Homo sapiens: one gene and its partners. The protein of the gene in region 3 interacts with the protein of the main gene of each other region in a pairwise test. Each region holds a gene or a part of one and is shown on either strand. Other genes may lie near its edges.

What was found.
Region 1: the proteins of PYGB (region 3) and HCN1 interact in binary tests that used the Homo sapiens proteins (3 or more experiments, as listed by UniProt).
Region 2: the proteins of PYGB (region 3) and PPP1R3B interact in binary tests that used the Homo sapiens proteins (3 or more experiments, as listed by UniProt).

What each region holds. Positions count from the first base shown.
Region 1 is NC_000005.10:45,691,579-45,702,396, forward strand, and holds the start of HCN1 (potassium/sodium hyperpolarization-activated cyclic nucleotide-gated channel 1), read right to left. Parts: upstream 4,803-10,818; 5' UTR 4,516-4,802; coding exon 4,091-4,515; intron 1-4,090. UniProt on the Homo sapiens protein: Hyperpolarization-activated ion channel that are permeable to sodium and potassium ions. Displays lower selectivity for K(+) over Na(+) ions.
Region 2 is NC_000008.11:9,140,659-9,147,658, reverse strand, and holds part of PPP1R3B (protein phosphatase 1 regulatory subunit 3B), read left to right. Parts: intron 1-2,148; exon of another isoform or gene 2,149-2,408; intron 2,409-5,860; exon of another isoform or gene 5,861-5,990; 5' UTR 5,991-6,007; coding exon 6,008-6,865; 3' UTR 6,866-7,000. UniProt on the Homo sapiens protein: Acts as a glycogen-targeting subunit for phosphatase PP1. Facilitates interaction of the PP1 with enzymes of the glycogen metabolism and regulates its activity.
Region 3 is NC_000020.11:25,242,693-25,252,830, reverse strand, and holds the start of PYGB (glycogen phosphorylase, brain form), read right to left. Parts: upstream 4,747-10,138; 5' UTR 4,653-4,746; coding exon 4,410-4,652; intron 1-4,409. UniProt on the Homo sapiens protein: Glycogen phosphorylase that regulates glycogen mobilization. Phosphorylase is an important allosteric enzyme in carbohydrate metabolism. Enzymes from different sources differ in their regulatory mechanisms and in their natural substrates.

The DNA of each region.
Region 1 (10,818 bases), on a different chromosome or scaffold from region 3:
AAATAAATTCTTATGGTTAATTTTGGCTATGTTGATATGAAAAGCAAATAAAATAAGCATTGCTGGCAGATACAGAGTGTGTTCAGCACAAAGATAACATAACAGTAGGCTAATTCGTCTTTAAACCCTAGAAGGTTGAATTGTTTTCTTGTGAGAAGCTCCTGGAAGCAAATGTTCTCTCTATTATGAACTGTATAATATGGGTGAAGCCTCCCTTCCCTAATGAACACATCAGTGATCTCTGATATCAGTACAGTTGTGGCTGCAATTCAAAGCAGAGATGGAAGAACGGATGTGACGGTATCTTCAGGAAGTAACTCCCATCTCTAGAGTCCTTGAGTACTTACAACAAAATAAGCTTTTCACACACTCATACTAATGATGAAAAGAAATTGAAAAAAATAAGAAGTCAAGATACAAAACTGCCTCCGTTATGAGGAGCAAGATGTTGGCTGGCAATACATATGGAAAGGAGCATTCTTTTTAAAAGTCCCTTTGTGTAAGCATGATGGAACAAAATAATGACAGAATCCCTAAAATGGCAAATAGTCTGGTGATAAATTCTTCCAAGATAAATTGCTTGCATAATAAAAATCATCCACAAAAGTATTCTAAATATTCTTTCAACCTATTTAAATGATTATATCATAACTATCAATTGGCTATGGAAGCACAATGCTTGCCAAGCATCACTTTTAAACCTTAGTAAAATTCTAGCTAATTAATATAAAATCACCATGAATTTTTAAAAATCATATTTAACCTCCAAATTAAATGTGTCTATGTGTTGTTCACATGAAATTCAATAAGACTAAGACCATACTGTCACTACAGAAAAATCGAGCTACATTTGTTTTTAAGTAACTATCCCTATTTTCCCTAGTTTGGGTGCTTATATACCACAGCATAAACAAAAACATGAGCTTGTTGTGTTTACTAAATTCTGTAGCTTCCACCCAGTTATTTCAAACAGTACCTATACTATTGGACTGCTTTTTACTCTCTGAAGGTTTCTATTGTCATCCTCTGCTGAGGAAAAAGGTAAATACAGCAACTCTGCCCTACTTACGCCAGGGGTAGAGAAAACTACCTGCCAGACACAGCAATAGCACTCTTGGGCTCTGGTGGGGAAAAGAGGCACTAGCTAGCTCTCTGAAAGTCTCAGTGGGAGCACAGCCTTGTCCCTTGAGGTAAGTAAAGTAGAAAGCTATCAGTCTTAAAAATTATCGTGAGCAGGGAAACTAGAAACAGTGTTAAAGTCACGACATGCCCTGGAGTAAGAACATAGTAAACTTCTCTGGCCATGTAAAGGTTTATTAAAAGTGTCAAGGAAAAGAATCCTCTGGATATCTTCATTTGTAATAACTCCCCACTCTTCATAGAAATTACTCTTAAGTGTCATTCACTCAGTTGTTAAATGATTAATGAACTTAAGTTTGACATTTTAGGAATTGTAGTAAAGCACCTCCCTGAAATAATCCTTCAGGAAAGGGCCTAAAGTAAAGGCTAGATCATGACCGCAAAAATTTCTAGTATCTGTTGAAAATTACTCACACATTCCTTTCCCTGTAGAAAAAAACTACCGCTAGAATTTTGTCTTTCCTATTTTTGTTCTTTCATTACATTATCTTGACGTTATAGATTTTAGAAAATCTTATATTGGTTTTGAGATCATACAAAAAAATGAAACAATAAGATGTAAATATATTCTGAATGTAAACAAGTACATGATTATTTTTGCAGTTTGTTTTAGAACACCAGTGTATATTGTAATTATGTTTTAAAATCTATTTTTTCAGATATCTTTCAGTTTAAAAAGATCTAAATAATGATAATTGCTTAATTTGTGCCTGCCATTTTCTTTTTTCCATTTATACAAGGGAAAAGTCAAATATTCCAAACTACTCCACACTGGAATTTAGAGTATTAGCTCAGTTTTTAATCATTTCCCATTTCTTTGAAATGGATAATAAAATTAAATCATCACCTGATTTCAATTTGTTCCTTTGTTCAGTAACAATGTTTTTATTAAAGAGATATTTTGTCTCAGAAGATTTCCTTGGGAAAATAAGGAGAATCCTGTAATTCCATTCATTCAAAAGACTTTCGCATGCTATTCTAATTCCTGAAAAGTGGCCCTATGTTTTTATTTAGCAAGTGGGAAAAAGTTTAATTACTTGATGTGTGGTATCATTTTGATAAGGGATAGTCCTTTTCACATTGCTGAAAAAATAAAAGCATCATATGTAATCATTTTATTGAGTGAAATTAAATGTTAAAAGTTCAGCATTTTTGCATGTTAATATTGAACCTGGTACATTTCTGGAAATACCACATTTATTTTTGCTATTAAGACTGGAGACTTTTTTCATGTAAGTTATTTTCATTTAAAAATTTTAAAATGAGGTGAAATATATTTCCATTGGGGACTGAGGAAAAGATAATATTCTATACTTGATTCCCACCTTTAAAATTCTAAAGAACATGACAACCTTATACATCTTAGAACAGGGTCATTTATAAGTTTGCTTCCCTATCTTCCTACTGGAGGAAACAGGTTTGATTATTTATTACATCTTTTTAATATGAACATTTTCTTTTTTTTAAAATTTTTAATGAACGTTCTTTCAATCAAACTCTTAATGTTCTCTAGACTATAAACGTCATTAGGTTTTATAAGTTCTCCTTTGGACTTTGCTGTGTGTTTTTACAAATAAGTACCTTAAAATTATACACTTTCTAAAATCCATTCACTCTTTGCATAGATCACGGAGGCTACTGATTTCTGAGACGATAAATATCTCAAAGAAGGCAAAGACCGTCACTCTGAGCCTTTGTGTGGCGGGACTGTGGATTTTTCACAGCTAATGTCATTCAGAACTGTGGACAGCTCCCGTTAAGGCATGTAGTTGGTGACAATTTCCCTTAGTTTCTAAACTAACTCCAAGGCTGCTTTACATTGCTATATTTATCCTATAAAGAATACTTAGTATATGCACATACTCCTTTAGTTGATTCTTCTTTTCTTTTCGAACGAGTTCGGCCAAATAAATAAATATCACCCTGAGTTATTAGGAGTTACTAGTTCTGGATTTTAAAATGGGAAGTCCAGCCTTGTTCAGGAGCTAAGATAATCGTGCACACGCTAATAAGAGGATCTACTACACGACCTTCATTTGACAATCTCTAAATATGCTTATCACCGAACGAATACTTGAGCGACAAGTAAGATCAGAAAACGTCTTAATTTTAATTCTCCAAAGCGGAGTTTTCCTGCTGACAGCTTTCCTGTCCTTCTTCCCGAGCTGGAGGACGTGAAAAAGATTTTTGAAATAGACTTGCAGTCAAGGTCAAGAAAGGGTGCCGCTCTATTTCAGAAAGGGGCTCTGTCAACGCCCCCTCTCTCTGTTTCAGGAACTAGAGGCTTCCTGCCACGCTCCTGCCCTGCCTGGAAGCGCCTGGCTTTGGTGAGACCTCACGTCAGGGACTATCCAAGTGCAAATTGCCCTTCTTTTGCCTGCCGGCCGCTGTTTCTGAGTAAACACAGCGAGGATAACCAGCGCCTATAAAGAAAAACAGACTAAACACACTCCCCAGGGGCGAGCGCGGCAGGAACTGCTCGGGCTTGTGAATCGCTGTCTCCGGTTACCCAGTCTTCTTCTGAGCCCCAGAAGCCTCCTTTTCCCTCCTGGTTGAGACCACACTTGAGGGAGCCGCGCGAGGAAGGGTGGCTTCCCGCTTCCTCACGCTCTCGTCTCTGAAGTAAAAGTTTCCCTTGTACAACTTCGCCTCCTCCCAGGAGGGTGACCGTGGCCTCCATCCTTCCCTGATCTGTCCCCGAAGTTCAGGAGGCCAAGGAGGAGAGCCCGTCCGGGATTCCCGGGCAACAGGAGCACATCCTCCGAGCCCCTCCTGGGTGGAAACTACCCGGAGGCGCCGAGTGGAGCCTGCTTAGCCCGAGCCGACGCCGCCGGCAGCGCCACCCCCCGCCCGCCCTCCTAGTCCCCGGGACGCCCCCCACCCAAGGGCGGGGAAGCGCGTTTCAGGGCGCGCCTGAAGGGAGGGTGGGGCGGCGACCGGGAGCCCTCACCTGAAATCACTGTAAGGGTGGATAATCCAGAAGCCTGCAGTTTTAACCCTTTCCTGCTCCTTTTCCACCGCCTTCTGGCTCCCAAACATGCGGAGGGAGAATTTGTTGACCCCGGGCTGCAGCATGGAGGTGAACTGCCTCTGCATGAAGCCGTACTGCCGCCGGGGCCCCTCGGCGTCTTCGAAGCCCCCCGCCGGCTCCTCGCCGCCGCCGCCGCCGCCGCCACCGCCGCCACCGCCGTCCACCTTGAAGCACACGGAGTTGCCGTGCTCCTTCGCGCCGGCCCCGCCGCCCCCCGGCGGGGTGCCCAGGCGCTTCTCGGCCGCGGCCGGCCCCGCGCCCGTCGCGGACGCCTTGGCGGGGAAGACGCTGTTGCCATCGTCCCGGCTGTTAGACGAAGAGTTGGGCTTGCCGCCTCCTTCCATGCCCGGAGGACGCGGCCGGCGACGGCGCGGGCTCCAGACTCGCCGGCCGCCCGGCGCCGGAGACACGTAGCCGAGAGGGTAGGGGCCCGAGCCGGCTGCCGGCGAGCCCAGCTGCCCGTCGCGGCGGCGGCGGCGGCGGCGGCGGCTGCTGCTTCCCGACCGCGCCGCTGCTAGCTGCGCGCCTGGCTCCCGCCGCCGCCGCTGCCCTTAGTGGCTGCGGTCCGGGCTCCGGTGCGGCTGGTGCTGAAGCTGAGGCTGCCGGAGCTAGGCGAGGCTCAGCTCGGCTCAGCCCTCGCGCCCCAGCGCCTCCCCTCGGCTGCCCTCTGTTGGCCAGAAAGGGTCTCTCCCCGTCCGCTCTCCACACATGCTCGTTACTCTTGCTCTACTTCTGCCCAGCGTGACATTGAACTCAAGAGCCCTCGGAGGAGACATTCATTGGTACACGTGGAGAAGGACTCGGTGTATGTTTGCATGAAAGACAGGGGAGAGAGGAGAGAGAGCAAGACTGAACTAGCGAGTGTGTGTTGGTCCAAAAGAAACAAACATCTTAAACTCATGAAGACATTGTCTGAACGCCTGTTTGAATAACGTTACAGATGGAGAAAAGGGGACAAGCTGACTATGCATGCCAACAATTCAAGTGCAAAACCAAATGTCCAAAAGAAAGTAAAGTTTGACAATGGAAAATAAATGTCCAAAGTATCAGGGAAAGTGTGCCTGTGCGTGCGCGTGCGCGTGTGTACTAGAAAGAGAGGCAGAGGGCAAAAGCTACCAGGTCTGTGTAATCCTAGGTAACCAGCTGCTTGGGGCTTTTCAGATTAAGGTTCTGCACCTGGGGACAGACAACTGACCTCCTTACACTTATCCTTGTTAATTCTTGCAGAGTTTTTTAAACAGAGGACGGGATTTCTTTCTTTCCAAGGCCATTCGTATCAATACACGTGCAAGCAGATCTATCAGCCACCAATATTGAAAGAAAAGTGTGTGAGGGAGGCCTCGCCTGAGCTGACCTATCTTTTTAGATAAGTTACATAATCAATAAAACACATTAAGGGATGTGTGTGTCGGTCAGTGTTTAACGACACCACGCTAGGAAGTTAAGACGTCTTGGAATCTCTCGTCAGAATGTCATTACCATTTCAGAAGGGGGGAACACTCTTAAGGGAAACTTACAAGTGTAGTACTGATGCTGAGGAAAGCATTATCCGTTTCCTCTTATTCCCTCTGCGTCTCTGAAACCCACTGGATTAGCTAAAGGAAGCAAAATGTGCTGCCAAACCCACCAGTCACTCAGCAGGGGAGCCCCGGCGTCTGAAGAGCTTCAAGACTCCCGAATGTCCCAAAACATCTGTTTCAGATACAAGCATTGCCTCCCTGCCCATAGCCTCTTCAAAGGAAATCTTGCCCTGCCAAGAGTCCCAGATCCCCTGGGTTCCTGTCAGCTGTAGCCACATTTTATGGAGAAGGGGCAGGCACTCAAGGAGGGAATGTGTATGTCAGGCTGGCAACTAGTGAGCTATCATGAGGAAAAAAAAAATGAGTGGGGCTAATCAAGGTGTTTTTCTGAAAAATTAAACAGTGATGAAGCCAATTAACAATGAAGGAAGCAAGGATAAAGACAAAGGAAGACAATTGGATGCCTTCCTGAGGGGTTAACAGAGGCTGAGAAAGGAAGCAGAGAACAGAGAAAATAGCAGAGGGAAGCAGAAACGAGCCATTAGGCCTAACTCAGTTGCAATTCTGTAAGATTTCCTTACCATTCTCCTTACCATAGCCTGTGCTAAATCTCCTTTTTTCACGGAGCTATGTCCTGACTCAGGCACCATCTGTTTTCAACTAATCATATACCAGAACCCTAAGAATAAATATGGATGGCCAAATTTTAATGGTAAGAGATAGGAAAAATATGAAAATATAGAGCTCTGATCTGTCAAAATAGAGACCTTTCTCTACTTTGGAAAGCCAAGAGGTCAGATAAGGATACCAGGTGCTGAGGGCAGAAGGAAGCCACGGGAATGGATAAAAACAAACATTGCCCAAAGCACAGTTCTGCCTAAGAAAGACCCGATTACTCAGGCAGCTTTTCTTTATTAGACTAAAGATGTTTCCCTACTTTTCTCCCATTCTGCATGCTTCCTCAGTCCCTCTATTTTCAGTCATGAGTGTGACAATGTATATTTTAACATAAATTTTAAATTTTATAATAATGTAAAAATATACCATCTAAAATGTTATGCTGAGTTTAAGTAAGTTTTGCTTTTCTTTTAGCCAATCTCTCTGTTTGTTCTATTGCAACTTAATCTTACTCATGACCAGGCAGTTATTTTAGTAAAAGTTTTTCTGAGTTTCAAGGTTTGTACTAAACTGATATGACAGAATCACTGAAAAACAAGATCTCAAAATAGAACTAAGAAATGTCTTAAAAAGATCACAAGTCATTGGTTGTTCCAAGTATAGCTTCTAGGCCATATTTTATTTATTCAAAATCTCAAAAAATACATTTTCTTAAAAATTTGAGAATGTGTATATTATATCAATGCATTAACTTAAAGTTGTCAGCAATATAAAAAGTCATGTTTATTTACTTTTCAGAGTGTTGATTTAAAGTTGTTTAGAATATGAAATTTAAGTTTTCTTTGGAGGAAGAATGAACTCTCAAGAAGATTGAGACAAAGTGAAAGCAATAAAAGAATGGAATCAGTGATAGAAGAAGAGACAGAGAGAATCTTGAAACTTCAGAATAATCTCTTCTTATCTTGTCTTTGTATCGGTTTGTTGATAAACTATCTCAAGCTAAAATCTAGCGAGCTAAATGCGAGTGTTTATTTCAAAGACATCTTAGAAATAAGACTACCATCATGTTGACTCTGTGTCATTAGATGTTCATGATGTCAAAATGCTTAGTATTTTACAGGAATCTGATTTCTGAGGACTCATTAGAGAATATCAATTATGAATTAATTTCAGGAGAACGTCTCATCAGTAGTTGTAATGGGTGCTATTCAATATATACAAGAATTGTGCATCTTCTGAAATGTTCCCTGTCTCCTTTAATACTCTGCTTAAGATCAAATTGCAAGGCAGCAGCAGAAGATTAATATGCATCTAAAATAAAATCTCCATGCAGCAGATACTAGCACACGTGAAATGAAAGAAAAAAGATAGATCGGTGACTTGAAGTTTGATGGTTTATTGGAAAATCTCAGTGAAACTTAAAGATTTAAGGGATAAGACATTTTGACCCTCTTAGTAGGACAGAGTAATATGTTACAAACATATTACACGTGTAAGGAAATAAAATAAGAACATCTGTTGAAGAAGGCAGTGGTAAGGAACAGTGAAAAAAAAACTTCCTCATTGACAACCTCACAGTCTTTCTGTGTCTTGTGTACAGGCAAATCTGATTATCTATCTGGAAAGCCACATCAACATCATGCTTAATATGAAACATTAAAGCTGTTAAAGTCAGAACAATACGCTCATATCCACCATTTCTGCAATGCATGGTATTTTTAATTGATAATATTGTCTCCTGAAAACCCCAAATAATCAACTGGATAATCATCATAACTAATAATAGAAGTTGGGAAGTTGGTATCAACTTTTGGTTACTTTAGTAAACATGCAAAAATTAACATTTTTCCTAAGCATCAGCAATAACCATTAAGGCAATATAGAGAACAATGATTTTTTTCACAATTGCAACTAAAAATGAAAACTACACAATAATAAATTTAACAAGAAATGTCTGAGATCCATAGTTTAAGATACTTTATTTTGATAAAAGACATAAAAAGCATTTAAATAAATTAGCTATATACTTTGTCCATAAAGTCTCAATATTATAAATATGGTGCTCCTTCCAAAATTGATTTTAAGTTTCAAACAAAATTTGGTGATTCCATGGACACAGGGAGGGAAACATTACACAACAGGGCCTGTTGAGGGTTGGAAGGCAAGGGGAGGGAGAGCATTAGGACAAATACTTAATGCATGAGGGGCTTAAAACCTAGATGACAGGTTGATAGGTGCAGCAAACCACCATGGCACATGTGTACCTACGTAACAACCTGAACCTTCTGCACATGTATCCCAGAACTTAAAGTAAAACTTAAAAAAAAGAAAAAAAAGAAAGCAAACCAAACAACTCACCAGCAATATACAGTCATTCCTGGTAACCAATAAAGCAACTTACTTACTTTAAAACGAACAACAAAAAAAAGTGTTATTAGTTTTCTCCATGCGGACAAAAGCAACAAAATGTTTTTAAAGTTTAACTGGATTAATAAATCATTTTTAACAGTTCATAAGCTATGGCTTAAAAATGAAAACAATGAAAAAATGTCCAAAGTATTAGAATTGCTTAGGGTAGCACTGAGCAGAGAAAGAGACAGATAAGGCAATGCAAAAGAGTCAAAACCAGGCCGGGTGCAGTGGCTCACGCCTGTAAATCCCAGCACTTTGGGAGGCTGAGGCAGGCAGATCACTTGAGGTCAGGAGTTCAAGACCGCCTGGCCAACATGGTGAAACCCCGTCTCTACTAAAAATACAAAAAAATGAGCCATGCGTGGTGGCATGCTCCTGTAATCCCAGCTACTCGGGGGGCTGAGGCATGAGAATAGTTTAAACCCAGTAGGCTGAGGTTGCAGTGAGCCAAGATCGCGTCACTGCATTCCAACCTGGGTGACAGAGTGAGACCCTGTCTCTAAATAAATAAATAAATACCAGAAACACACTTTAGTTTTAATCATAGCTCCAAATTGTCATTCCACATCAATGAGCAAAGGATATGTTGTATAGCAAATGGTCCTAGGATGGTTAACTATTCCAGGGAAAAGGAAGGTAGAATATAATATCATGTCATTTCCTAAAGTGAATTTAAGATGATTTAGTATTATAATGTAAATACTAAAAATCATGATAGGTAAATGTTTATAAAAGCAAACACTGGAAAAGACTATGCCACTTTAAAAGATTGATAGATATTTACTTTTCAGAATTTTTTCCATTGACCTGCCTATATAAAGACTAACAATACTATACAATTTTAATAGTTTTAATATATGGTGGCCCAATCCCAACATCTGTATTTCTCTTCATGTGTCTGCATACATACATATTAAACATGATTTTTTTTCATATACATGTAGAATTATTTTTGACAAATTTTGGCACTTGTCTTTGTAGTTAAGGCATTTCGTTTGCATTGCACATAGAGACATTTTAGGAAGAACTATCATCTTTCAATATTGAGTCTCTATTCAAAAGCAAAATAGATATTTTTTCCCTATTTCTTCCTTCTTGTATCAGCGCTAAATGATACATATTATTGTCAAACATTTGAAGAATACAAGATTTAAAAAGAAAAACCTTAAAGTAGTCCATGAACTCATCTTCATTTTGCTGGCACATGCCTATCTTTCTTGACTCTAACATGCATATATTGATTTCTATTATTTTACATAACTAATCTCTTAATATATTTATTGTACCAGCATTTGGATTTAAGGTTTCAAAGTATATCTTGAAGATATTAGCATGAGATAATTTATAGCATCCTTTTCTTTAATGCCTGCATTTGTTTTGTAGAATGGATATACCATAATTTACTTAACATCTCCTTTACTAATGCACATTTGAGGTTTTATTCTTTTGTGCTAAAACAAACTGTGTTACAATTAATATCCTTATTATATCTCTGTGTAGTTATCAATATAGATATGGAGAAAAAACATTGGAGGTAAAGATAATTACTCAATTCATGGGTAAATTTGCTTTTGGTAGTAACTATCAAATTGCCCTCCAAAGACTGTAGGAATATATATTTCTTCTAAGACCACATGAGATTACCTGTTTCATACGCTTGCCCCAAAATCAGATATTAACAACTTTTTCCAATTTAAAATGAGCAAGAAAAAAATGATAGGCCATTGGAGTTTTAATTTCATTTTCACAATTATTAATAAGAATAAACAGATTTCCCATGTTCATTGAGTTTCTTATAGTTATTCATTTGTGAGTTATCTACTTTTACTATATGATCATATATGATACATATGTATGTTTTATTTTCAATATATTTTACATATAAAACTTTCACCATGCATGTAATTTTAGAGTAATGAATTCCTTGCAAAGAATGAAAAGAAGCCATATATAAAAGACTGATAAATTTGAGTCAATGAAAGCTGACTTTACTTTCCATGTCTGTTTAAAATATTCCCACAATTATTCAACTATTCTCTCTCTCTCTTTTATTTTTTTATTTTTATCTTTTTTTAGAGATGGTGTTGCCCTGCCCTG
Region 2 (7,000 bases), on a different chromosome or scaffold from region 3:
AGGTCTTCAGCTAAGTCTCTTCAGCCTGCGGGATTAGAACTTGGGACATTGGCTCTAGTGGGCTGTGTGTAGATTCTTTGATTGATCCTTTTGCTTTGGCTGTTTCCACAATATCTTGAGAGTTTCCAAGGCTTTTCCTAACATGCAGAAAAAGCACGTAGGAGGCTGGTTTGCAGGCTTCTTGGAAGTGCAAAGAGAACTTGCAGATAACCTGTGCTGACTCAGTTGAGGAGGAAGCTGTGAAGAGGAACCCTTCCTCCCTCAGTTCACACCCAGATTTTTCAGGATGGGTAGAGTGGGGGGCACTGGGATGCCAGATATAGCCTCTTGTTTGGTTTTCGTACTTGTTTAAAAACAAGGCTGGGCACGGTGGCTCATGCCTATAATCCCAGCACTGTGGGAGGCTGAGGGGAGCAGATCATGAGGTCAGGAGTTCGAGACCAGCCTGACATGGTGAAACCCCGTCTCTACTAAAAATACAAAAATTAGCTGGGGGTGGTGGTGCACGCCTGTAATCCCAGGGGTGGTGGCACGAGTAGTCCCAGCTACTTGGGAGGCTGAGGCAGGAGAATCGCTTGAACCCGGATGGCAGAGGTTGCAGTGAGCTGAGATTGCGCCACGGCACTCCAGCCTGGGCAACAGAGCAAGACTCCATCTCGAAAAAAAAAAAATTAAAAATAAGACAAAACAAAAACACTACCTGTGTTACAGTTAGAGCTGAGGGTATAATTCCAGCACAGTTTTGCAAAGGACAAGAGTAACTAAAATTTAGATATTTTGTAAGTATAGGATTTTTTTTTTACATTGAACCTGTTAGTCAATCCGTGGAACCTCTGCAAACCTACCTTGCCTAATTCAGTCAGAACTTTCCTTTCCAGAACAGTTACGTGGCTATAAGAACAGATCATTGAAAGCAAATTTGCCCTTAAAATTTTCACTAGATTGATTTTCTTAAAGGGGAAACAGTGAGACAGATATCCTTTAAAATGAATGTTTAAGCACCTGCATTCTGGCCATAAGTTATTGTTTTATTTGTTTCCGAATATGTGTATTTCTCTGACTGGCCATCTGTAAGGGTTTCTTGCATCCCAGGGAAGTTCTGTACTTTTGGAAAAATGGGGTCAAATCTGATATGTGTTCGTCCGTTCACCTTTTTTCTTTACATGTTTGGTTAATCACAATCAGAAGGTGAAAATGAGAGGTTATTTATAGAACTGAACCAGTGGTCCCAGCTCTTTACAGAAGACACTTGGCATGTTGCCTGTCACTTCTCAGGGGTGGCCATGGCTGCTTGAGAGTGAGCTCCCCAACACGTCATCACACACCTACACCTGTGCCATAAGGAGGGGTAAGATAGGTTGAGGGGAGATAGGTTTGGGGACTCATCCAGATCCTGTGTTCTGTGATTCTCAGACTTGAGATTTTAATCCTAGTTTCGGCACTCATTTCCTTAATTTAGTCCATTGAAACTGTCAAATCAAAATATAAATTTGCCATGGTAATTAGAATGATAAAAAGTGCTCAGATTTTGGGAGGCTGAAGCGGGAGGATTGCTTGAGCTCAGGAGTTTGAGACCAACCTGGGCAACATGGTGAAACCCTGCCTCTATAAAAATTGAAAAATTAGCTGGGCATGGAGGTGCACACCTGTAGTTCCAGCTACTTTGGAGGCTGAGGCGGGAGGATTGCTTGGGCCCAGGAGTTTGAGGTTCCAGTGAGCTATGATTGCACCACTGCACTCCAGCCTGGGCAACACAGCAAGATCCTGTCTTATAAAAAAAAAGTGCTCAGCTTTAGTGAGGCAGTAGTGATGGGATGGGTTTTTGGCATATCATAAAATATTTGAGGATTTTTTTTAGGTTCATTTTGTTCTGATGATAGAAGCAATATTATTTTAGAAGATATAATACAAACCAGGATACCAGAAATTCCTGAAATCTTGTCACCTAGGTATTCTGATTTTAAATATATATCTCTAGTCTTTTTTCTCTGCATTTACATAATACAGTTGATCCTTGGACAACATGGAGTCTAGGGGAGCCTAGCCCCCACACAGTCAAAAATCCACATATAACTTTTGACTCCCCAAAACCTTCACTTCTAACAGCTTACTGTTGACCAGAGTCTTACCAATAACATCAACAGTCGATTAACACATATTTTGTATTTTATTTGTAACATATACCGTATTCTTATAGTAAAGTAAACTAAAGGAAAGAAAATGTTAAGAAAATCATAGGAAAGAGAAAATATATTTACTATTCATTAAGTGGATGCGGGTCATCATAAAGGTCTTCATTCTCATCCTCTTCACGTTGAGTAGGCTGAGGAGGAGGAAGAGGAGGAGAAGGGGTTGGTCTTGCTGTCTCAGGGCGGCAGAGGCAGAAGAGAATCTGAGCATACGTGGACCTACAAAGTTCAAACTCATGTCGTTGAAGTGACAACAGCATTTTTCCCCACAAGTCTAGTTTCTATGTACAATTTTATCTTCTCTCTCTCTATATATATATACATATGTAGACATAAATATAAATATATAATATTTTTTTTTCATTTCATTTGAATCTTTTTTAAAATAATGGCTTTAATGATGATATAAAATTACATCACATGGGCTGGCCATGATGGCTCCCCGCCTGCAATCCCAGCACTTTGGGAGGCCGAGGCGGGTGGATCACCTGAGGTCAGGAGTTTGAGACCAGCTTGGCCAACATGGTGAAACCCTGTCTCTACTAAAAATACAAAAATTAGCTGGGCGTGGTGGCAGACTCCTGTAATCCCAGCTACTCGAAAGGCTAAGGCAGGAGAATCACTTGAACCTGGGAGGTGGAGGTTGCAGTGAACCGAGATTGTGCCATTGCACTCCAGCCTGGGTGACACGAGTGAAACTCTGTCTCAAAAAAGGAAAAAATAACAACAGTAAAAATAAAAGTACATCACATGGATGTGGTACATTTAATTTAACCAGGTACCTGTTAATGGTCACCTAGGTTATTTTGTCATCTTTTTCCCCCTATAATGTGGCATTGAACATTTTAGTACCTTAATCTCTGTGTGTTTTTAATTCTTTACCTAGGATAAATGTCTCTATGTGATATTAGGATAAAAAATGATTAAAAAATTAGAAAGTTTGTACCAATTTTAACTAATGAAAATGTTTGCATTGGCTGGGCACAGTGGCTCATACCTATAAATCCCAGCATTTTGGGAGGCTGAGGTGGGAGGATTGCTTGAGTCCAGGAATTCAAGACTGGTCTGAGCAACATAGTGAGACCTCGTCTCTACAAAAAAATATTTTTTAAAAATTAGCCGGACATGGTGGCTCATGCCTGTGGTCCTAGCTACTCGGGAGGCTGAGGTGGGAGGACCGCTTGAGCCCAGGAGGTGGAGGCTGCCATAAGCCATGTTCATACCACTTCACTCCAGCCTAGGTGACAGAGTAAGACCCAGTCTCAAACAAAAAAAAAAAAAAAAGAAAAACTTGTATTATCTTTTCAATTTTTTTCCTAATTCAATAAATAAAAAACAGACATTGTTTTTCATCTAAATTTCTTAAATTAATAATAAGGTTGAACATTTTGCATATTTATAGGCCACTTTAAAATTTTTTTTCATGAATTTTCTATTCATGTTCTTTGCTTATTTTTCTATGTGGAATATTTGACTTTATTATTGCTTTGTAAGAACACTTTACATATTAAGGTATTAGCTCTGCTGCTATGCTTATTGTAAAATATTTTCACAGTTTGTCTGTAGTCTTTTTTTGTTTTACTTATCGTTTTTACTTAAAGAAAATATAGTTTTTGTTAACTCAGATTTATCCTCTTTCAGCATGATTCTCTTTGCTTTTTATTCTTATAGAGCCAATTTTTTACTTGTGGAAAAAACAAATATTCACCTATGTTAAAGGCTTAAGAATACGAAATTGCTGGTTGTTTTTATTTTATTTATTTTTATTTTTTTTGAGACAGAGTCTTGCTCTGTGGCCCAGGCTGGAGTGTGTGATCTCTGCACACTGCAACCTCCGCCTCCCAGGTTCAAGCAATTCTGCTGTCTCAGCCTACAGAGCAGCTGGGACTACAGGTGCATGCCACCATGCCCAGCTAATTTTTGTAATTTTAGTAGAGATGGGGTTTCACCATATTGGTCAGGCTGGTCTCAAACTCCTGACCTCAGATGAACCACCTGCCCAGCCTCCCAAAGTGTTGGGATTACAGGCGTGAGCCACCGCCCAGGCCTGCTGGTTCTTTTTAAAAGAATGGTATCCTGACATTTAAAAACCTACCATAAACTTAATGAAAGCAGGTTTGTGTCTATCTTCACTATTGAATCCCAGTATCTTGCTTGATGCCTGCCATATAGGAAACACCCAATCCCTATTTGTGGGATGAATCCATTTCTTTTTATCAGATTATAGCAAATATAAAGCCACAATGAGATGTCACGTCACACCCGTTAGGATGGCTATTTTCAAGAAGACCAAAGAAAATAAGTATTGGCAAAGACGTGGAGAAAAGGGAACCCTTGTCTCCTGCTGGTGGGAATGTAAATTAGTACAGCCATTATGGAAAATAGTAGGGAGGCTCCTCAAAAAACCACAACTAGAACTACTATATGACCCGGCAATCCCACTGCAGGACATATATCCAAAGGAATTGAAGTCAGTGTATCGGAGAGTTATCTGTACTCTTATGTTCATTGCAGCGTTATTCACTAAGCCAAGATACGGAATCAACCTAAGTGCCCATCATTGGATGAGTGAATAAAGAAAACATGGTATATAAACACAGTGGAATACCATTCTACCTGAAGAAAGAAGGAAATCCTGTCATTTGTGCCAACGGGGATGAACCTGGAGGATGTTAAGTGAATAAGTCAGGCACAGAGTGACAAATATAGCATGATCTCACTTATATGTGGAATCTGAAAAAGTCAAACTCATAGAAACAGAGAGTACAGGGGTGGCTACCAGAAAGTGAGGGTAGAGGGACTGGAGAGGTATCCTTTGGCCAAAGGATACAAAATTTCAGGTAGACGGGAGGAATAAATTCAAGAGATCTGATGTACAATATGGTGCCTATACTTGGTAATGATATGTTATATATTTGAAAATTGCTGAGAGTGGATTTTAAGTGTTCTCACTGCAAAAAAAGTGTGATATAATGCATGTTAAATAGCTCGATTTAGCCATTCCACAATGTATACATATATGGAAACCTGTTGTACACCATAAGAATATACAATTTTTACTTCTCAATTAATAAAGAGAGGCAGAGAGGCTCACACCTGTAATCCTAGCACCTTGGGAGGTCAAGGCAGGAGGATGGATTGAGCCAGGAGTGTGAGACCAGCCTGGGCAACATAGCGAGTCCTGTCTCTACAAAAATTTTTTAAAATTAGCCAAGCATGGTGACTTGCGCCTGTGGTCCCACTTTCTTGGGAGGCTGAGGTGGGAGGATCATTTGAGCCTGGGAGGTCGAGGCTGCAGTGAGCTGTGCTCACGCCACTGCGCTCCAGCCTGGGCACAGAGCAACACCCTATCTCTAAAAATACGTAAATAAATAGTGTCCCTCAGGACAGCTATCTGTGGAAGACACCCTTTTAGTCAAATAGATTTGGGAAATTTTAAAACAGTATATATGCCCTTTTGATTATCCTCTGTGGCACATTTGCCAACGGAAGGCCCCAAGAAATGCTGACCAAAAAACCTGTGCATTTAGTTTTAAAACTAGTGGGTTTCATACTCTTTTGTTTGTTTTAACCTTGAAGCACCCCCCACCCCCCACCGCATCTCGTCCCCCCACAACATAATCTTCTCTCAAACGCATGTTGTGCTGGACCACACCAGAGTTAATCCTGACCTGTAGCCAGGTGGGCATAGATAAAAGGAAATATTGTTTGCCAGTCCCTGCTGGAATGATGCCTTTACACATCTGTCTGATCTGATTGCTCCACTGTTTTCTTTCTTCTCTTCCCTTTCCACGGTTCTAGCCTGTTCATCTAGCCCCATGATGGCTGTGGACATCGAGTACAGATACAACTGCATGGCTCCTTCCTTGCGCCAAGAGAGGTTTGCCTTTAAGATCTCACCAAAGCCCAGCAAACCACTGAGGCCTTGTATTCAGCTGAGCAGCAAGAATGAAGCCAGTGGAATGGTGGCCCCGGCTGTCCAGGAGAAGAAGGTGAAAAAGCGGGTGTCCTTCGCAGACAACCAGGGGCTGGCCCTGACAATGGTCAAAGTGTTCTCGGAATTCGATGACCCGCTAGATATGCCATTCAACATCACCGAGCTCCTAGACAACATTGTGAGCTTGACGACAGCAGAGAGCGAGAGCTTTGTTCTGGATTTTTCCCAGCCCTCTGCAGATTACTTAGACTTTAGAAATCGACTTCAGGCCGACCACGTCTGCCTTGAGAACTGTGTGCTCAAGGACAAGGCCATTGCAGGCACTGTGAAGGTTCAGAACCTCGCATTTGAGAAGACCGTGAAAATAAGGATGACGTTCGACACCTGGAAGAGCTACACAGACTTTCCTTGTCAGTACGTGAAGGACACTTATGCCGGTTCAGACAGGGACACGTTCTCCTTCGACATCAGCTTGCCCGAGAAGATTCAGTCTTATGAAAGAATGGAGTTTGCTGTGTACTACGAGTGCAATGGACAGACGTACTGGGACAGCAACAGAGGCAAGAACTATAGGATCATCCGGGCTGAGTTAAAATCTACCCAGGGAATGACCAAGCCCCACAGTGGACCGGATTTGGGAATATCCTTTGACCAGTTCGGAAGCCCTCGGTGTTCCTATGGTCTGTTTCCAGAGTGGCCAAGTTACTTAGGATATGAAAAGCTAGGGCCCTACTACTAGTGACTGCAGGTGACAGGGCGTGGCGGAGCTGCCACAGACAAGCCTAGCTCTGCTCACTGTGCAGTGGAGATGGAAGGCCAGGGAGGAGCAACGTGGAACTTCCATGAGGCCCCGTTTGGGAAAATAAAAGGATCC
Region 3 (10,138 bases):
TCATCACCAATGGCCAATAATCACACTAGGTAACTGCGGCCTCCATAAAATCCCCAACTGAAGGGGATGGAAGAGCTTCCTTCCAGTTCAGTGAATCCTGGAGGTGCTGGGACAGTGGCACCTGCAGAGGGAATGGAAGCCCCTGCACCCTCCCTCAGACCTGCCCTCTGCATATCTTCTATCTGGCTGTTCCTGGGTTGTATTCCTTGTAAGTAATTGGTAAACGCAAGTGAAGTGTTTCCCTGAGTTTCATGAGCCATTCTGGCAAATCATCAAACCTGAGGAGGCTGTCGGTCAGAGGTCAGAAGGGAGGTCCTGATGTGCAACTGACATCTGGGGTGGAGAAGTCTTGTGGGACTGAGCCTTTAGCCTGTGGGATCCGAGGCTACATCTAGGTAGACAGCATCAGAACGGAACTGAATTGTAAGATGCTCAGTCAGTGTGGGAAACACCACCCCCCGACCCCCCCAGAGGGACATCCACGTTACTATCTAGGCACAACAGCCAAGTTGACACATAAAACCAGCCACCACAGCCTGCAAGGGCAGAGGCCAGGCTGTCTTCTGCAGAAAATGAAGGCACACACTGTAGGCTTCTCCATCTGCTAAAATGACAGCTGAGGCCTACCTTCCAAGTGGCTAGCTGTCAGCAACACAAAACAGCACCCACCATCAGCTACTGGTCAGAGAAAATGACTTTGAGCGATCTGCTGTCAGGGAAGCCTGCCCAGGAGATGCAAGCTCAACTTCACACATAAAAGTGGAAATACATCAGAAAAATTGGGAGTGTTAGGATTCCGGAGGCTGGTACCACAACTGACTAATTAAAACAAATCCCAGAAGTGGGGATCACAGAGCAGAAGGGTCTGCAAAACACTTCTCTAGATCATCTTCTTTAACTCCTGGGTCCAGCCAAACCAAAAGATTAATCGTATTTCATTGTGTTTATCTCATTAGGAATATTTAGGACAGCAGTGTGGGCCCCAAGGTAGAGCTGCTTTTCCTTAATCTGTGTTGTAGTCATGCCAGGAGCTTATGGGAAGAGTCTCAAAAACTGATTGTTACATCCACTGCAGGGGTGCTGCAGGTCAGTGGCTCAGCACATCGACAACACAGCTTCACAAAGGCCCACAGAATAAACCGTGCAACTGTCCTTTCAGGATGTTATAGAAGGGATCCCGTGACTCTCATAACTGGGCATGGGCTGCTTTCACTGCCAGGATCCTGGTCTGTGTTTTGTGTCCTGACCCTCACTGTCCCACCCCAACCCTCACTCTGAGGCCTTCTAATGTGAACCTTTTGTGCTGTATCTAGCATAAGCATCCTCAAATTCTCTCTGGATAGAGATGGAATGTCAATTCAATATGAAATAGAAACATTTTAACTCTAACATTTCAGAATGGCAACAGACTTCGGAAACATCACCAGCTTGATTCCCCTCATTTTAAAGATGAGAAAACTGAGGCCAATAATGGCAAAGAAATCCGCCCAAGCCCACAGTTGCACAGACCGAATGGAAAGGCCAGGATGAAAAGGAGCGTGGAATCACGCACACCCTTTCTTCTCCATGCAGCGCAATCCCAGGCTCTGCAGCTTCAGGTTGGACTCTCCTTGCCACCTTGCCACCACTTCAGAGAATCCATTAAATGTCTTCATGACCAACCGCCACCTCTTGCCAAGCACAAAGCTCTCCATGTTAGCCAGATGTTTTGACGTGCTGATTTGCCAAGCATGGCAAAGCTTGACAAATCTTCCTCTGAACACCCCAACTTCTACTCTTTCGCTATGTACCACAAATAAAGTGCTAAGAGTTATGAAACAATAGGTTCAGTATAATGTTATTTTATGTATTAAAAACAAGTTTCTGCCAATACGGAAAAAACAATGTAGAACACAAAATATTTACAGCACAAAGTGGGCGATAGAAGTGGGTTACAGGATTACAGTTAATTTTTTTCCTTCTGGCTTATCTATATTTTCTAATTTTTCCTCCAGTAATAATTTTTCCTTCAGGACTTGCATAATTTAAAAAAAGACAAAAATAACAATAAAAGCGTTCTATTTAGGAGCTCTAGAGTGTCACATTACCACAGTCTGCAGTGTGCCGGTGAATGTCTGAGGTCATTTCTGGCTGAGGGGGAGGCACAGCAGTTATTTTCTTGGGAGCACACCTCCTCTCATTGGCTCTGGTGGGACTGGTTGCTGGTCCATCACCAGCAAGCATGTAACTTTTCCAAAGAAAGGATTGCAAGCTTATTTTCATCATGAATTAGCGAAAGAAGCAGTTAAATCCCAATTTTCCATGTCCTTCCTATTCAGAATAGGCACACAGCTTATTTACACACTGTGAGATCTAAAAGTTTACAACTTTACGACTTACAGACTGTGCGGTTTAAGAGAAAGGTTTCCACCCAGAGCCACCACACGTAGACAATCAAAAGAGATCTCACGGAGGATCAAAAAACCTGTTTTGTTGCAGGGACTATCTTGTTCATGAAGGTCATTTCCGTAATCCCTGAGCCCATCGCTGGCCTCTCCAGGATGTGATTATACATAAATACTCCAATGGGCACCCTAAGGTGTAGAGCTGAGTCCTGGTCCAGCTCCAAGGAAATGCCCTTGAATGTGAAGGCAGAGCTATGTCCTTGCCATCCGCCACTTAGACAATAAAAATGATGTTGCGGGTCGGGTGCGTTGGCTCACGCCTGTAACTCCTGCACTTTGGGAGGCCGAGGCGGGCGGATCACGAGGTCAGGAGTTTGAGACCAGCCTGGCCAACATGGTGAAACCCCGTCTCTACTAAAGATACAAAAAATTAGCCGGGCGTGGTGGTAGGCGCCTGTAATCCCAGCTACTTGGGAGGCTAAGGCAGGAGAATTGCTTGAACCCGGGAGGCGGAGGTTGCACTGAGCCGAGATCGCGCCACTGCACTCTAGCTTCACGCTACAGGGCAAGACTCAGAATTAAAAAAAAAAAAAAAATGGTGCTGTGCATCAGAACTCTCCCAACAGCAGGGAATTCTGGGGGAGCCACTGCTTCTTGGCTGCTTTTCCTGGCAAAGTCATCCCAAGCCCTTGTTATAACCTGTTTTGGCCATTCGTTGCCACTTCTATGTTTTGCATACCAAATATGAAGAGCCCCAGTTGGTATTCTAACAAATCTGTCCCTTTTACCATCTCCATTTTAGAAAAAAGAATGTCCCAGAATAAGTTTGGAAAAGCAGTCAATCTCTTAGCAATTACCGTATTAAACATATCTTAATGCCCTACAAAAATATTCTAAAATACCATCCATAAAGCAAGTGCTCACTGCCTAGATGTACACTGCAAGTAAAATCTTTGCCAAGTGGCTTCAGGTCTGGAAGTGTGTCTTTTCCTCACCAGTTCTCCCTCTACGTTAGTGTAGTAGAAAGACAATTCTCCATGGTCAAGAGTTTAAAAGCAAACGACAACAACAAAAAACTGGCAACAGGGGGCTGTGCAAGACTACCATGTACCTATCAAACTGAAAACTACCATCCTATCCATTGACCTGCAAAGCTGTTTATCAGTGAAAAAGTTACAAATGTTTACGAATGAAACAGAAAATCTAAAAAACTGTATGTGCATTATACTTTTTAAAAATGTGTATGTATATTTAGGAATACCAAAAACACAGCAAGAACACAGGCCCATAGTAAACATGGTTAAGAGTAACGGGGACAATCAGTGACTTTGTTTCACTACTCAAACAAATTTTTGCAAGATATAAAAAGTAACAATTAGTAAGATGATCTCTGTCAACTTCAACCCAAGCAAATTTCTCCAAGGGAGGTGTGGGAACCTCTAAGACAGAGCCTTCTTCGAGGGCTCCATCTCCATCTCTGAGCTTCGTACCCCTCCCTGCGTGAAGCAGGCATCTTCAGTGATTTTCTTCTAAGCAGCGTACACAAAAAAAAGTCTCACAATTCCCTGCAGATTACCGAGCTCACCCCATTCCAACCCACAAGGCTGCCCAGGCCTGGTTCCAGTCCCATTTTCTCCCACAGGCTGCTGCAGGAAAACAAAGAGTGGCTGGAGGCAGGGGCGGGGAGCACCGGCTCTGCAGCCAGCGCGGAAGCGCACGGCCAGAAAGAGACCGGGAACGTCCGCCAGGCTCCCGGGCTCAGCATCATCTGCGGGGGACGGCGGACCCCGCCAGGCGCGGGCTCCCAGTGGGGCGGACCCGTGGCCGCGGCCCTGCGCAGGGGACGCCCGGGCCCCGCCGACTGCGGCTTCCAGGCGACTCCCCAGTCGGCTGTGCCTGGCCGCCGGCCGGCTAGGGGCGCAGGTAACGCCCGACGGGCCGCCCCGCAGAGACCCCCGCTGGCGCGGCTCCGGGACCGGCGCCCTCTCAGCGGGCACGGGCGCACAGGGCGGGGCAGCGCCTCACCTTGGGGTCGCGCTCGTAGTAGTGCTGCTGCGTGCGGATCCAGCGGCCCACGAGGTGGTCGCGCACCGTGTGCGCCAGCGCGAAGAAGTAGTCGCGGGGCGTGGCCACATTGCGGTCCTTGACCAGCGTGAAGTGCAAGTGCCGGTTGAAGCTCTTCCGCACCTCGGCCACGTCGCCTAGCCCCGCCAGGCCGCGCACGCTGATCTGCTTCCGCTTCTCGCTGTCCGTCAGCGGCTTCGCCATCGCGCCGGCGGAGGCGGAGGAAAAGAGATGGAGGAGGAAAGCGGCGGCACACGCGAACGCCGGGATGGTGCAGCTGCTCTGGCGCCGCTGCTCTGGCGCCCGGCACTGCGGCTCTGCGGGCGGGATGGACCGCGCCTGCGCGCCGCGCCGGGGCGGGGCCTCGGGGGGCGGGGCGGGGCCTCGGGAGGGCGGGGCGGGCGTCCAGGCTCATAGCTGAGATCTCTGGTGTAGTCCGAGGCGGCAGCGACCTGTCCACGCCACCTGAGCGTGGTGTTTGCCCCCTCGTTGGGCAAGCCCGGCAGAAAGTGGGAGCGACTGGAGGGGGCAAGGGACCCGGGGCCTCGGAGCGTGCCGTCGTGGCCGCTCCTGCCAGCCCGGGGACGGTGCGGGAAGGGGGCCCTGCCCTCCGGCCCTCGGGTTCCTGGGACCGGCCCTCCCGCCCTGCACCGGGTCACCAGGTGCCCCGCGGGAGCGCGCTGGGCTCGGGCTGTGGCCGAGACCTGGTACACGTTCGGGGAAACTGATTACAGCTTGAAAGGCATCCACCAACGCCTGCTGGGCCCGGTCTTCTCTGTCCGGGGCAGGGCGGCTCTGAAAATACCAGCTATTTGCTTGCCACTCCAGGCCGATGACAGACGTGGAGAAAACCAGCTGCCAGCGAGCTGGAGACGCCCGTTCCCGAGGGCGCGAGGCAGCCACAGCCAAATGCCACCACGACCCCGCCTCGGAGGGACCGCAGCCCCCTAGCCCTCGGAGAAACCCTGTTCCCGAAACCACCTGGCAGACGCTGTCCGCTTTGAGATTACAGCAGGGAGAAGGAAACATGCCCGTCTGGCCGGGGAGCTCAGCCACTAACCGAGACTTAGCCTCTGTCATCCCAATCCAGGCTGCAGCTCCAGATAGGGGGCGTCTGCACACAGCTTCCCACACTTGGCCCCGCGGAACACAGTCCTGCTGGCCTCAGCCTGTGGGAACCCTGCTTCATGTAAAGGTCACCTAAACTCTGCCTTCCCTCAACCCCTTCAAACTCTGCCTTTCCCTTCGTTCTTGGGAGGCGCTCCCTCATTGCAGTGGGTCAGTACACCCGATTTTGTGGACCACAGGTTTGCTCCTGGTGGTCTTGGGCTGAAGGGGCTGCAAAGGTTACTGAATTTCGTGGAGGTAAAAATTGCCCGCAGGAAATGTCATGAAAGTCCAGGTGCAGTAGGTTTCCTGGTGTGATGCTTCAAAGTTATCTTCTTACCTGGAGCCCCTTCCAGCTGCAGACTTCAGAGGTCGGAGGTTAATCAATCTGGAATGACCCCACAGCCCACCCAGCTCCAGCTCGGGATTCACTCCTGCACTATGTCCTAGGGATTCTGGAGCCAACAAGATCGAACTTCGGGCACAGATGGCAGGGCTGTGGGGTCGAGCTTGGCTGCAAGCTCCGAACACTGATGCAATCTCTCTGAGGGTGATCTGGCAATTCAGAAGTCATAAAAATGATAGTGCCCTATGACCACTTCTACCACTCTGGGGAATTGAGTTCAAGGAAAGCTTAAGAAGACAAAAAGCAAGTTATGCAAATATGTTATCTGCTGTGGTGTGGTAAAGTTTAATCCCCCAGCTGTGGTGCACACCTGGCAAAGAATGGAGGCGCTGACACTTATTGATCATTACTTGCAGTGTACACGTATTAACTCCTGATCCCTGCAAATAGCCTGCTATTACCCCCGCTTGACAATGGAGAAGGTGAGCCACAGAGAAGTTAACTCTTCCCTAAGCCCACACAGCTAATAAGGGAAACAGCCAAGGTTCACCCCAGCCAAGCCCTGCTCCACTGCACAAGCCCAGAAAAATGTATCTGTGCTCAAAGTTAATATCATAAACCATTGTGCTGCTAAAAGGAATGACTGTTTTAATAGCTAGCTAGGAAGGTGTGATTGATGACACAATACTGATAAATGAAACACAAAAATAAGGATGTAATGCAGAAATGACAGTAATGATTTGAATATTACTTTCATTTAGTCAATTTAAATTTAAATTAAATAACCACATGTGGCTAGGGACTACTGTGTTAGAAACACAGGTGTATATCCAAACCTAAACACTGGTTATTTCTGAATGGAAGAATTATCAGGGGGGTTATCTTATTTTCTCCATACATTTTGTATTTCCTGTTTTTTCCACAATATTTCTTTTGTAAGTGGAGTAAGTTTTAGTAAGAAAAACTAGAGGCCACAGACTTCACTAATGGATGCTGATTTAAGGCCTATATATTCTCTTACTGGATTGACTTTTAATTCTTTGTTACTCTGGTTAAATAAATTTTAAGTCCTTTCTTTCATAGCTACACTTTATTAAATTTTCCATGATCCTGACAAAAATTCTTTGACCAAACTCTAGTCAGGCTTCTGAGCCTTGTAGGGCCATCATACACTTCCCTGTGACATCTGTTTTAGCAATCCCTGCTTTGTCAATTTAGCAGGATTCCCTGCCCCTGATGTCTGATCCCCCTTGGTGACATCTGATCAGGCTCCCCATGCTCCACCATCCCCCATGCTGTCCAATCACCCTGGCCTGCCTTCAACAGGAATCCTATGAGGTGGTTTAGACACAATCACCTGGACCCCTGAAGTGTCCTCTTAGTAACTGTCCATCCACTGACCCCTCCCCCAGTCCTTGGCTATAAATGCCCACTTGCCCATGCTGTTTTCGGAGTTGAGCCCAATCTCTCTCCCCTGCTGCAAGATCCCGTTGCAGTGGTCCCTGTACCTATCATGATGGTTGTGAATAAAGTCTGGTACCATGCTTTAACAAATGCTATTGATTATTTTTTTTCTTTAACAGTTATCTTACCCAGATGTCATTTCCTCTTCCTGGGAGCTGCCATGGTCCTTCCCCTCTCCTGCAGCACTTAGTCCAATACTGAATCTTCATGATGTGACTCTTCATAATGCGCATGGTTGACGCAGGAAGGAGCCCTCTCACCATCATGTCTCCTCACCTCCTCTGGCCGCTAATATTGCTGAAGTGGCTAAATGAGTCCCAGTATTAATTATCTCAGCCATTTTCAGGTAATTTATTTATTTATTTATTATTAATGTTTTTGAGATGGAGTCTTGCTCTGTCACCCAGGCTGGAGTGCAGTGGTGCAATCTCCGCTCACTGCAACCTCCGCCTCCTGGGTTCAAGCAATTCTCCTGCCTCAGCCTCCCATGTAGCTGGGATTATAGGCACTCACTACCATGCCCAGCTAATTTTTGTATTTTTAGTGGAGACAGGATTTCACCATGTTTCTGGGCTGGTCTTTAACTCCTGACCTCAGGTGATCCGCCCGCCTCAGCCCCCCAAAGTGCTGGGATTACAGGCGTAAGCCACCGCACCTGGCCATCATTTTCAAATAAATAATTTTTAGATAGTTTTAAGTGTTGTAAAGAAAAGCAGGTTGAGCTGTTAGTTACAGGAGGTGATATCTCAGCTGAGACTAAAAAAAAAAAATGAAAGAATGGACCAGGTGCAGTGGCTCACACCTGTAATCTCAGCACTTTGGGAGGCCAGGGTGGGTGGATCACTTGAAGTCACGAGTTCAAGACCGGCCTGGCCAACATGATGAAACCCCGTCTCTACCAAAAATACAAAAGTTAGCTGGGCGTGGTGGCGCATGCCTGTAATCCCAGCACTTGGGAGTCTGAGGTATGAGAATCGCTTGAACCCGGAGGTGGAGGTTGCAGTGAGCCGAGATTGCAGTCTGGGCGACAGGGCAAGACTCCATCTAAAAAAAAAAAAAGGCATGAATGAATCTGGGGGAATAGCAAATGCAAAGGTCCTGAGGTGGGCATCCACTTGGACAGTTCACAAAAGAGGCATCTGAGGGGCATTGGGATACACCACCCCAAAATATGCCTCTTCGCATGTGGATTATTTTGAATTAAAGGCCATTAAGAACCAGCAGACCACAGGAAAGGCTCTAAAAACCATTTTCATTTTGTAAAAAAAATTCACATTTATTATAAAGGAAATTTCCACGTCTCCCTCTTCCATGCAAGGAAGAGGATATCTTGTAACAACTCTTATCAGTGGAAGAAAGTACTGACTTAAGTCTGCATAACAAACCTTCCTAAACAACCCTTGTTTACCATACTTTTCCTGGGCACCTTCTGCTGAGGTTTGAATATACCCTCCAAAACTCATGTTGAAATTTAATTGCCATTGTATAAGAGGTAGGACTGTTCAGAGGTGATTAGGCCATGAGGCCTCCACCCTCAAGGATAGATTAATGCCATTGTGGGAGTGGGTTGTTATAAAAATGAGTTTGACCCTCTCTTGTTCTGTCTCTTTCACCCTCTCTTGTACTTCCACCCTCCTTCCATGGGACAATGTAGCATAAAGGCCCTCACCAGATGCCAATGCCATGCTCTTGGACTTCCCAGTCTTCAGAACCATGAGCCAGATAAGCCACTTTTCTTTATAAATTACACAGTCTGTGGCATTCTGTTACAGCAGCACAAATAGACCAAGACACCTTCCCACTACATGCCTCCCCTGCCCAGAAGCTCCAGGCCTTTTCCTTTATGTCAGCCTAAGATGATAGATGAACCCAAGTCCTGACCACACTTTGGGTTATTCATTGCCAGGTACTGCCACATGTAAGTGCAATGCACATGCCAATAAACTTGTTTTTTTCTTGCCTGATTGAATTGTCTTTGGCTGGTGTAATTAGAGGCCCCCTAGCTGGAGACCCTAACATGGGCTGGGGAAAAGATTTTTTTCCTTCTGTAAATAACCAAGAGTTGGATTCAGCTTCATCTTCCATTTTAGCAACAAAACTGCCAGGCTTCAGAACAGGCAAAATGGAAAGAAATTGGGCTATGCTTTTATTTTATATAAAGCTGAAAAGCAGTTTTGCCCTTCTAAGAGAAAGGATTGTTCTGGCAGCCTGGATCAGAGCAGTGATCAGGCCAGAGCATCTGCTAACCTCAGCATCAGGGAATCCCTGTTTTAGACTGTCCTCTACGTCTCTGTCTTCTCCTTTTGGGAGGTAATTTTTAAAAAATCACTAAGAAGGGATGGATGCTGGTTCTGGTTTCGTTACTGTTGTAGGGAGCTATTCTGTGTTGCTGGAGATAATACATTACCTTTAAAGTTCTTTTATCTTTTTGTTTTTGAGACAGGGTTTCATGGTGTTGCCCAGGCTGGAATGCCATGGTGTGATCACGGCTCACTGCAGCCTCGATCTCCCAGGCTCAGGTTATCCTCCCACCCCAGCCTCCCAAGTAGTTGGAACTACAGGTGCATGCCACCACGCCCAGCTAATTTTTGTATTTATTATAGAGATGAGCTTTCTCTATGTTGCCTAGGCTGGTCTTGAACTCATAGGCTCAAGCCATCCACCCAACTCGGTCTCCCTAAAGTGTTGGGATTACAGGCATGAGCCACTGTGCCCAGCCTGAAGTTCTTTAAATAGGTATTTAAGATTCTGTCTGTAGCAAGTCCCCTGTCAT